Linked DNA regions of Homo sapiens. The protein of the gene in region 2 purifies or fractionates together with the protein of the main gene of each other region. This does not show direct contact. Each region holds a gene or a part of one and is shown on either strand. Other genes may lie near its edges. The genes, in order: ACTR2, CHURC1 and ACTR3B.

What was found.
Region 1: the proteins of CHURC1 (region 2) and ACTR2 purify together in Homo sapiens (affinity purification with mass spectrometry; 4 studies listed by BioGRID and IntAct, with this or other methods). This does not show direct contact.
Region 3: the proteins of CHURC1 (region 2) and ACTR3B purify together in Homo sapiens (affinity purification with mass spectrometry; 3 studies listed by BioGRID and IntAct, with this or other methods). This does not show direct contact.

The regions. Positions count from the first base shown.
Region 1 is NC_000002.12:65,251,768-65,255,519, reverse strand, and holds part of ACTR2 (actin-related protein 2), read right to left. Parts: intron 1,793-3,752; coding exon 1,656-1,792; intron 1-1,655. UniProt on the Homo sapiens protein: ATP-binding component of the Arp2/3 complex, a multiprotein complex that mediates actin polymerization upon stimulation by nucleation-promoting factor (NPF).
Region 2 is NC_000014.9:64,924,305-64,928,056, reverse strand, and holds part of CHURC1 (protein Churchill), read right to left. Parts: intron 2,051-3,752; coding exon of another isoform or gene 2,048-2,050; coding exon 1,977-2,047; intron 1-1,976. Other genes in the region: CHURC1-FNTB protein, read right to left, coding at 1,977-2,047. UniProt on the Homo sapiens protein: Transcriptional activator that mediates FGF signaling during neural development. Plays a role in the regulation of cell movement.
Region 3 is NC_000007.14:152,818,610-152,822,361, reverse strand, and holds part of ACTR3B (actin-related protein 3B), read right to left. Parts: intron 2,064-3,752; coding exon 1,920-2,063; intron 1-1,919. UniProt on the Homo sapiens protein: Plays a role in the organization of the actin cytoskeleton.

The DNA.
Region 1 (3,752 bases), on a different chromosome or scaffold from region 2:
TCATAATACATCTGAATGAGTTCTACTCTGCAAAAGCTAGTAATGCTCATTAAATATGTCACATCAATAACAAACAGAATGGGCAGTGGATCCTCAGCTCCTACTATTTCAGAAGCAGGATTTTATCCGCCATAAAAGGATTTATATTTCAGTTTCAGAGAGGGTAAAAGAATTAACAATTCATAAGTAAGTCAGTAAAATGACTAGAAAAGTCAGTTTTTGAAAAGCACTGCATGAGTACTAATGTTTTGATAGTTTTGATAAACAATCAAAAGTATATTAATGAATAAATATTATTTTAGTACTGGACTCCTGTAGCCTGCAGTTTGCTCACACAATTAATGCCATATTTATGAAATGCCCCCAAGTCTTTAAAAGTTTTATCTTTAGCTTCTAGTACTGTGTCTGGCACATATTAGAAGGACAATAGCATTTGTTTAACGAATGATAAGGGAATTATTGGGATACTCAAAGGTATAATCTCCATTGTTACATTTCTTAAATGCTAGAAAATACTACTATTTTTTTAAAAACCCACTGAGAGAAAAAAAATTACTAGACTTTACAAATAAAAAAAAAATCCTCTAATATTTGAGTCTGTGTTCTAAAGACAACCCCAGAAATTCTGTTAGTTACGCTTTGAATTTTGGCCTAAAATGAGAGTATTATAATTCTCATTAATTTAATCTCCCCTCATGAGGAGGATTACTTTAAATGAGACTGAAGGAACCCAATGTCAAGGTAAAGACAGTGCAACCCAATTTAATGCAGAGACAGGGTTTCTTAATAGCAGCACCACTGACAGACTATACATTGTTTGTTGTGCAGCCAGCCCTATTCATTATAGAATGTTCAGTAGCATTCCTGCCCAGCTCAGACAACCAAAAATGTGTCCAGAAATTGCTAATATCCCCCAGAGGACAGCACTGTCCCCTGGTGAGAACCACTGTCCTGGAGAGGATAGACTGATTATAGAATTGTGGTATAAACAATTTTCTAAATTTTATTTTAATATTAAAAATGATATATGTTAGCAAGTAGACACCTTATGTACTTTCTCCAGTAATGTTTTAAAGAAAATTATAACTAGTTATATTCAGAAATAAACTAAAATAGTAAATATTAAAAACTGCATCTATTCCATGAAAACTACTAAATATTAAAGTCTGGCGTATTTGGGCTGTTTTCCTCAAATATCATTAATTTGCTATCACTGTATTTTGTAGGAAAGGACAAGAGCAGACAACCCAACCAAGATCATGGCTTAAAACATACCTGCTCAAAGAAAGGTTTTATGGCAGAAAAGGCTGCCTGAGCTGTCCAAGAAAGTTTCAAATTAGGGGTCTCTTCTATCCTTGAAATATCTGTCTACTCACTCCTCAGGAATAACAAATATAATTATGTAATGATATAATGTACTCTCATTAGTATACAGAGATCATGTGTGTACACTTTTTTCCTTGTTTTTAATGTATCTTCTTTTTTCTTCATGTGTATAAATCTTATATGAATTTTTATATAAATAAGGGAGGTAATTGGATAATTTCTCTAGTGGTACAGATTTGCTGGAATCCTAAAACGATAGATTCAATTCTGTGTTAAGGTGGTAAACAAATTACAAAATTTAATTTCCATGATATTTTCCTTTCACTTACCTTGATAAGATATCTAGTTATATCCCTCCCAGCAATATCCAGTCTCCTGGTAAGATGAGGGAGAGAAAAGCCTTCATATACTGGGCAAATGTGAGTCACACCATCTCCAGAGTCTACCACTACACCAGTCAATAAACCTGCATAAAAGCCAGGGGGATTTAAATAAAAAGTCAAATCAGGAAAACCAAAGCCAGCGAGTTCCAAATACAGTAGGGAAGCCAAAACAGAAACGTAACCAACTAGAAGCCAGAATTTATTATTTAGTTATTTTGCAGTTTGTTTCTAATGCATAAGTATTAAAGCGAGTGTTCTCTTTTAAGACTTTTAGTCTACTATTATGTGCTGTCCAAGGAGATGAGAAGAAACAGACCCTGAGACTGAGGACTGAAAAACAGGACTTTTTTTTCCTTTTTTTTTTTGAGACAGGGTCTGGCTCTGTCACCCAGGCTGGAGGAGTACAGTGGCTCAATCTAGGCTCACTGCAATCTTCATTTCCTGGGTTCAAGTCATACCTCCCACCTTAGCCTCCTGAGCAGCTGGGACTACAGGCATGCACCACCATGCCTGGCTAATTTTTGTAATTTTTTTGTAGAGACAGAGTTTCGCCATGTTGCCCAAGCTGGTCTCGAACTCCTGGCCTCAAGTGATCTGTCTGCCTTGGCCTCTCAAACTGCTGGGGTTACAGGCGTGAGCCACCACACCCAGCAGAACACGTTCTTAAAGCTCTGTACAATTCTTTATTTTTTTCAACTTAGATAGTTTTGAATATACTACAAATAACATATACTGTGTGTTCTGGAAAAATGCCTATTGATACTAGACAGCTAGAAATCTAAGAAAAATTAAACATGGCTAGCCAAAGCATCACTTTGATTATTCACTGGAACTTATAATAAAAGGCAATGTCAGTTAAACCTCATAATAAAAGAACAGCAAAGAAGCTGCTTTGTTTCCCCTGTTTCCTCAACCTCCTGGGCTCAAGTGATCATCTCACCTCAGCCTCTCAAGTGGCTGGGATTATAGGCATGTGCAACCACACCCAGCTAATTTTACTTTTTATAGAGATAGGGATCTCACTATGTTGCCTAGGCTGGTCTCAAACTCTGGAGATACAGCAATTTGACCACCTTGGCTTCTCAAAGTGCTGGGATTACAGCCATGAGCCACCATACCTGGTCAAAAAAACTTTTTTTATTTATTTTTATTTACATATTTTTTTTGAGACAGAGTCTCACTCTGTCGCCCAGGCTGGAGTGCAATGGCACAATCTCAGCTCACTGCAACCTCTGCCTCCTGGGTTCAAGCGATTCTCCCGCCTCAGCCTCCCAAGTAGCTGGGATTACAGGCACATGCCACCATGCCCAGCTAATTTTTTGTATTTTTTTTTTAGTAGAGACGGGGTTTCACAGTGTTAGTCAGGATGGTCTCGATCTCCTGACCTCGTGATCCACCCACCTCGGCCTCCCAAAGTGCTGGGATTACAGGCGTGAGCCACCACACCCGGCCTAAAACTACCTCCTTTTTAAGTGGATATAATTCCTTGATGCAATAAGCCTCATAAAACTCATATACAGCCCTTGAATGTTGTACTCTTTTAAAAAGAAGAGGATTTCCATTGCAAAAAAGAAAAAAAAAAGGAGGAATTCACACCATCATCAATTCAAAAATACTCCCAGGAACACTGACTAATGCAAGAATTTACATTTTATTTCCCAAAGAGCCCTCCCTACCCACCTCACCTTATTTTCTACCACTTCCATCAGGTCACACACATACTGGCCTTTCTCCAAACACACTTGACCCATTTCCAGTGCCACACTCTTTTCCCACTGGATTATCCCCTGAAGTGCCTAAAAGACTCCTTGGCACATATCTGACAGGCCCAGACATTCTCAGTAAGTTCCTGTTGAATTTATAAGACCATAAAAAAAAAAAAGAGCTCTCCCAACGTGGCCAATATTTTATTTCCAATAAAGAGGGAGGCAGTTGCTAATGGCAATATCAAGAGAATATATAAGTAGTCCCCTCCATTAAACCCACCTCAAAAGTTAGAAATGCACTCCCAAATGTTTACCTTCTCCTTTTTAATCTACTATA
Region 2 (3,752 bases):
TATGAAAGAGTAGCAGGAAATAAAAGAAGGGAAGCTGGGCCAGTCCAGTGAGAACCTTGAAATGAGGAGCTTGGATATTGTACTGTAGCTAAAGGTGCACTATGGGAAGGCCAATGAGGTCACCCAAAAGTATTTATTTTTACTTTTTAGTAGAGACAGGGTCTCACTATGTTGCCCAGACTGTACTCAAACACTTGGACTCAAGAGATTCTCCTGCCTCAGTCTCCTGAGTAGCTCGAACTATAGGCACACACCACTGTGCCCAGCTTTGAAAACATTATTTTAAGAAAATTAATATGATGGTAGAGTATGGAGTATGAATTGACGGCGGGGGGGGGGGTGGGGGGAGAAGTAGACTGGGAGTAGAGAGTCTAGTTTAAGAATCATTTTCACCACCATTTCATAGTTTCTTGCATCGTGACTACAAGCCACCTTCCTTTACCTTCTTCCTGTCCCAGAGTAATTTCCAGGGCAGCTTTGAAAACGGCTGCATTCAGTCAAAAAGGAAAAATCAGCTAGACTTTGGTCTAGCTAATTTACAATGGCTTGGTTAGGACATAAACAGGCAACCTCAATATCCGTTCAGGAGCTGTACATAACTCACGTGAAATTCAGGAGTGTCTTGAAAATAGCTATAAGCACTCCTTTCCTCCCATAAAAGAATAGGACTGTTTCTTTAAGCCCAGGAGATGCTCATCTCCCTATGCGGCCACTACTCATTCACTAAGATGTCAATTTTGCCCTAAGTTACGCATATCATATAAATATTTCTTGAGGCATAATTTTTGGATGCTGAAGAAATATAAAATATAGTCAAGATGTTATTTTAGATTAACCACAACATATCAGACCAGACTCTGACAGGTGACTAAGCACTTTCTTCCATGCTAAAATAAGGAATAAGAGGGGTTTTACTATCTTATGATTCTGCTATGGAAGATTATTATTATTTTCCTAATTAAGTACTATCCAAATGTGAAGGGAATTGAAAAAATTCTCTCGGCTGTTAAAAGCTCTAGCCTGATATTTATATCCTATGGACAAATATGTAGTTCACACAAAATAAGTAACTCAACCTGAAGGCTTGAAAACAGGCAGTGAGGGACAGAGATAGGTTTCAGTTTGTCCCTGGCTCTCCCCGACTGCCCAGCTTTTCTTTCTGACCGTCAGACCTGTGTATCTTCAGCAACTACAGGCCTATATCAACCTTCCAGAGAATTCTTCACATACTCTCACAATTGTGTAAGGATTAATCCTTATGATAAATCTCTTAATCTCCAGCTTCACAGTGGTTCTGTGTTTCTCCTCCAACCATGGTACACACAGCTTGTAATTTTACTTAACAATACTATAATGTCTTACCACAAATGAGACTGCAGAGTTGTTCAACTCTACATGTCAACTTGGGAAAACAAAGAAAACCTCCTTATCACAGTTTCCATGCTGGGCAAGTATGGTGGCAGTTGACAGGACACCACTTAAAAGCCCACAACTGTGCAATCACGTAACTGGGCAGAAAAAAAGCAGCACAATGGTAATCTCATAAGAAGCTAGAATGTGCTACTATTCTTTATAAACAAAAATGACAGGGCTGAGATATCATTTGTAAACTACACATTTTGATTTGTGATTCTCGTGAAGACAGGTTTACACAAATCCACCCACATCTAAAGTCTGTCTCTCAACTTGCACAGATATAAGAAAGGCATGGGGCTGGGCACAGTGGCTCATGCCTGTAATTCCAACACTTTGGAGGCCGAGGTGGGAGGACTGCTTGAGCCCAGGAGTTCAATACCAGCCTGGGCAACATAGCAAGACACCATCTCAAAAAAAAAAAAAAAAAAAGGCATAGTCTCCTTTAATATATGCTAACGCTTTGCACTTCACTTATGAAAACCGTATTTAGATTCTCAAGAGCACTTTTATTATTCCCCTAACCTCCCCATATTTATATTTATACCCATATTTATATTTACCTGAAATTCATCCATGATACTGAATGTATACTCATGTCTGGCTATTACATGATGACAATTCTTACACAAATCTGCTAAAACAAAGAGAGACTTACGTAATTAAGTCTTAGAGAGTTTCTTAAAACTTCTATTAAAATTTCTATTCTCAGCATATTATTTAAAGAGAATCTTAAGTCTGTCATATTTAACATAGGAGGAAACCCATTATAGTATCTACCTTGATTTTTAAAAGATTCAGAATCTGCCACATAACAACGTTACATAATTCTGAGTCTGAGCTTTTATTAATTGCCACCAAAAGTTCTTTAAGAGAAGCAGTTAAAACATATTTAAGTGTATTTTTAAACTAGCTAGATCAATTTCTTTTTTTTTTTTTTTTTTTTTGAGGCCGGGTCTTACTCTGTTGCCCAGGCTGGAGTGCAGTGACACAAACATGCCTCACTGCAGCTTCAACCTCCCAGTCTCAAGTTATCCTCCCAAATCAGCCTCCTGAGTAGCTGGGAGGATAACTTGAGCCCAGGAGAGGCTCAAGACATGTGCCAACACACTCAGCTAATTTTTTTGAATTTTTGTAGAGGTGAGGTCTCACTATGTTGAGCAGGCTGGTCTTGAACCCCTGGGCTCAAGTGATCCACCCTCCTGGGCCTCCTAAAGTCCTAGGATTATAGGCGTGAGCCACCGCACCCATCCCAGCTGGACCTATTTAACTATGTAAAAGCTTTCATTATCATGAATAATATAAACTGTGCTACTATATCCAATCATAAATAAAAACCAAAGCTGGGCATTAAAGTGAATTTAATGGTAACAAAATAATCTAGTAAAAACGATGATTTATTGAGTGCTTACTATTTTAAATATTTAATCTTCTAAAAAACCCAATGAGGTAGATAGTATCATCACCACCTTTTTAGAGATAAGGAAACAATGGCATACTTCAGTTAAGTAACTAGCAAGACGACTGAGCCAGGATGTATTGGAACCAGAATTCAAACCCAAACAGCCTAGCTCCAGGGCCCTTGCTCTTAAACCACTATGCCCTACTGCCTGGAATGAAATACAGCTTAAAGAAAACATATGCTAAAAAGAAAGAAAAAGATTCTTCTAGCTTAGAACATTTATTATTATCTGACTCCATTCTAAAGGCCTGCTGTCTTTCAAACTCCTCTGACAAAATACCATTACCTGTACATTTATTCCTCATGTGTTTAGAAGGTACCCAAGAACCAGGAGACAAGCAAAAAGGGAATGTGAACAGTTAAATACTTCTCACAATATTGGGCACTGAAGTATACATATACTTAACTTACAGAAATCCTTAGTGCTAACCTCAGAATTGATTTTTTTATACATAGTTTATTTGGTTTCCCAGTATTGAGGACGAGAAGAAGGATAGGAAGGCAGCTTATTATTTAGCAGCAAAAGTAAGGAACAACAGACTGACAGTGAGATTGGAGAAGAAAAAAAAAGCTAGACATTCTGAGCAGAAACAAGACTGAAAAAAACACTGCATTCCTGAAGTCATTTAGTATAGGGACAAGCAGCCCTAAACACTTTAATAGCTGTTGGAGGATATCATGGTATTATACTGTAGCAGAAAAGTGAAAACTCACATGGATGACCCTAAGGTCACAATAATAACAATAATAAAAAGTATATCTTGTTAAGGCAGCATAAAGCTTTTAAAAATATGTCCGTGAAAAATAATTTGATAAACAAAAAAAATTCAGTTCCTGAATCGTAAGCTTTAGTTATCTGCAAAAGTCATTTACATAG
Region 3 (3,752 bases), on a different chromosome or scaffold from region 2:
TGACCCCCAGATACTTGCTGCCTACGGGAAGCACGAGGTGGGCCGCCCAGCTGGCGCTGAGCACACCGTGGAAGGAATGGCTCTCTCAAGGACCTCCAAAGACGCTCTCGTGGTATTAAGTTTAAAGTTTCTTAGCATCCCTGAAACATATTCTAATGCCATCTTCTGGGTATCTTGGATATACTCTAGCGGAATTTTAAGAAGACTGACAGGCAAGAAGTGCTACACAACCCTGTGTTCTTTGATGACACAGAGAAACAGGGTCAGCTGATTACAACCTCAAATCTACCAAGACTGGAGACAAAGGCATTCAGTTCTCCTCACAGGCCTGGTCAACATCCTACAGCATCTCAGCTTACTTAACTCAAATGCTTGCTAGGAAATGTTTCCATTGAGTTGGGTGCAGAGTAACAGGCTTAACCTTAAGGTTCAGGATTCATGCTGCAAGGGTGGTGTGCTCACGTTACACACTCCCTCAGGCCTGTTCACAACCACAGAAGGCCATGGCAGTAAGGGGAAGCGGGGGGAGCTCTAAACCACGCCTTTCAGGATCTGTTCCTTCAAAGAGAGAAGTGAGGTGAGAACTAACAGGGCTACCCCACACAGCAGGGCCAGGGCAGCTGACTCGGAGGCTATGAACAGTCTCTTTTACTCCCAGCCTTCACAGGGGGGAGACACACAGTCACATCGAGCACATCAGCCCAGATTTCAGGGTCCAAATTGGAACCCCAACAGCCCGTGTGGAGAGTTGAAGGCCCAGCATGAGGGTCAGGAAAGCCCCTCCGTGGCAGTGTTGCTCAGCAATCCTGGCGGAAATAGGGAGGACTCAGACTCACTGGAGTGGACCCTGGGCGTCAATAACAAAAGGCTCAATTCTTTTTTTTTTTTTCTTTTTTGAAATAGAGACGAGATCTCGCTATATCACCTGGGCTAGTTTCGAACCCTGGCCTCAAGCAATGCTCCAGCCTCAGCCTCCCAAAGCCCTAGGATTATAGATGTGAGCCACTATGAAGGGGCTCAATTCTGACTTACATTTCTAACAGATTTGGAGTGGCAAGGGAGCTTGGATCAAATAGTCAAATATTCTTCCATGGAGGAAAGGCAAAGAAAGGAGAAGGTGACCCCTTAGGAAATATTTTAGTCTAAAAAAGAATATCTAATGATACCTCAGGAAACCTTCCCCTGAGATGGAAGGGACCACGTCTTCCCCACATCACCATTTCAGCGCTGAGAGCCCCCTTCCCAGGAATCTCTGGTCCCAGGTAAAGCAGGGCAGGTCATACCCAACTGCAGAGCCTGCCTCATGCCAGTGCCTCCTGACCTAAAAACACCTCGGGAATCATCTCTGGTGCTTCCTTTCCTTCAGCCAGCCTCAGTTACGAGGTGCTGAGAAGGGAGGAAGGCAGTGAGGAGAAGTGTGGGTGTTGGGCTCACCCCCATCAAGCTCTGCTACACTCAGAAACTGTGCCATAAAGGAAGAAGATGCTTATGGCCACACGTCACAGCCACACCTGTGTGTGAATTTTGTGCAATAGCTCTGGATCCTAGGGTGGCAGTGTTCTGCTGCTGTGGTCGCCTCCTGATTCTACAGCGAAGCATGGAGGCAGTATGGAAGGAGCCCTCTGGTAGATGAGGCTCCAGCAGTGAGGCTCCAGCTGAACAATGCTGCCTCTGCACGCTGGTACGCTGCACCAGCTACCAAGCTGTTCTCAGTGACAGCTGAAACCTCAAAGCATCTAGTTTGGAAGAGGTTAAGCTTTACATCTTCAGCCCACTTAAGGGGTAAAACAAATCAAGCCCCACATTCATGGGAAGGGGAGAGGAAGGAAAGGAGGAGCAGGGATGATGGCACCAAGGGGAAGTGTCCAGAACACCATCTCTCTCACCCCCAAACCGGCCGGTTTCCCATCTGTTTTTACCTTAATGGCTTTTGCGGTCTCCAGTGACTGCTCAGGAGGGATTCCCACCTCCCTCTCCCTTAGCAGCTGTTGAATGAAATACGTAATATCTCTACCTGCAATCGGGATGTGTTTGATGCAGCTTCCAATTACATAACCTTCTGCCTAGGGAAGAAGAGGAGGCAGAACAGCTGTGTTAGTGATTTCGTGGTGGAGAGCAGCCTGGACTCACAAGGTTTCCTGCCTCAGCCTCCCTGTCTGCCCCTCATGGCACTGACAAGCATTTACATAATCCCCACCCTCTGCAAGCTCAGTACAGAAGGTCTTTCAAAATGACTGCATATGCAATTCCATTAATATTCAAAATTCCAGATTATTCCAATAACCTGACACTCTCTAAAAGCAACCAAAATGATTTCATTAGGAATATGAAAAGAAAAACCACATAAGATAGTTCATTTCCAAAAAGAAATGCTGTCTGTAAGAACACTAAACCCAATAGGTTCTTTCCCTGATAAAAAGGAAAAAGTTTTATTTATAAATTGTTAAGCCAACTATAAATCTACTTACGTTTAAAAGTCAGCAATTTGGTTAATACACAGGGCTTAGATTCTAACAACCTGGACTCAAATCCCAGCTCCACATTTGCAAGTTTCACATGCTTCAGCCTCAGCGCGTTTGTCCATCGTATGAGGCAAACAATACCCTGCTGGGGCCAATGATACAGTTCAGATGAAACTGCGTGTGTCGAGCACACAGCACTGGTTTTGGGGGCTGGGAGCCTCTCATTCCACTGCCTCCCTAAGCCAGTGAAGGCATGTCTGTGAGGGGCCAGGAAAGGAGGGTGACCACGCCCTGGGCCGATCAATGGCAGGGCCAGTGTCAAGTGTCCACATGCCCACAGCAATGATGGGCCCAAAGCTCCCTCATCAGCCTTCCTGTGGGCACAGACCTGCCACAGGAGCCACAGGCTTGGACACACATCCAGCTTGTTCTCCAGGGGATGAGCAGGATGCTGACCGTCAGAGTGGACAACGCCCACCGCTGGATCATCCGGTAAAGACACTCAGGTTTCACGTTACAGCACATCACAGCTTCTGTGCCACAGTCCCCAAGTGAGACAGAAGGGAACAGAAGTGAAACGCTGACTTCATTTTACAGATGTATTCATTCTAATAGCTGCACCTAGTCACCAGTAAAGTTGCAAGAACAACTTACTGAATTCCTCCTATGGTTTCTTTCTGATATACGTAACTTCTAGAAGCAAAAAAAGTAGCCTTTCTGCAGAGTCCAAGTATTTGTAAGGTATTTTAAGATGGAGATAAAAGTATAAATTACTAAAACTCAACTTAAACCCATAAAAATAATATTAGCTTTCTAATACATAAACTATTCACAATTATTATATTCTATGCATTACACGTAACATTTTCTAAAATACTGTTAAATAAATATCAGCTCATGACAGTGGTAAAAATATTAAAACAAGATACATGTCCAACAACAGAAAAATAAATTATGTACTTCTTAAATGTATTTTCACAGAATATTTAACCACAAGAGAAAAAAACTAGGGTTAAATTAATACGCAAAATATAACCTTAGGATTGTATTATATGTAGAATCCCAAACCAGACATGAGACATTCCAATTGTGTTTAAAGTGTGTGTGTGTGCACGCATGCGTGAGCACACGTGTCTTAGAAAAAGAGCTTAGGCCGGGCATAGTGGCTCACGCCTGTAATCCCAGCACCTTGGGAGGCCAAGACAGGCGGATCACCTGAGGTCGGCAGTTTGAGACCAGCCTGACCAATATGGAGAAACCCCATCTCTACTAAAAATACAAATTAGTCAG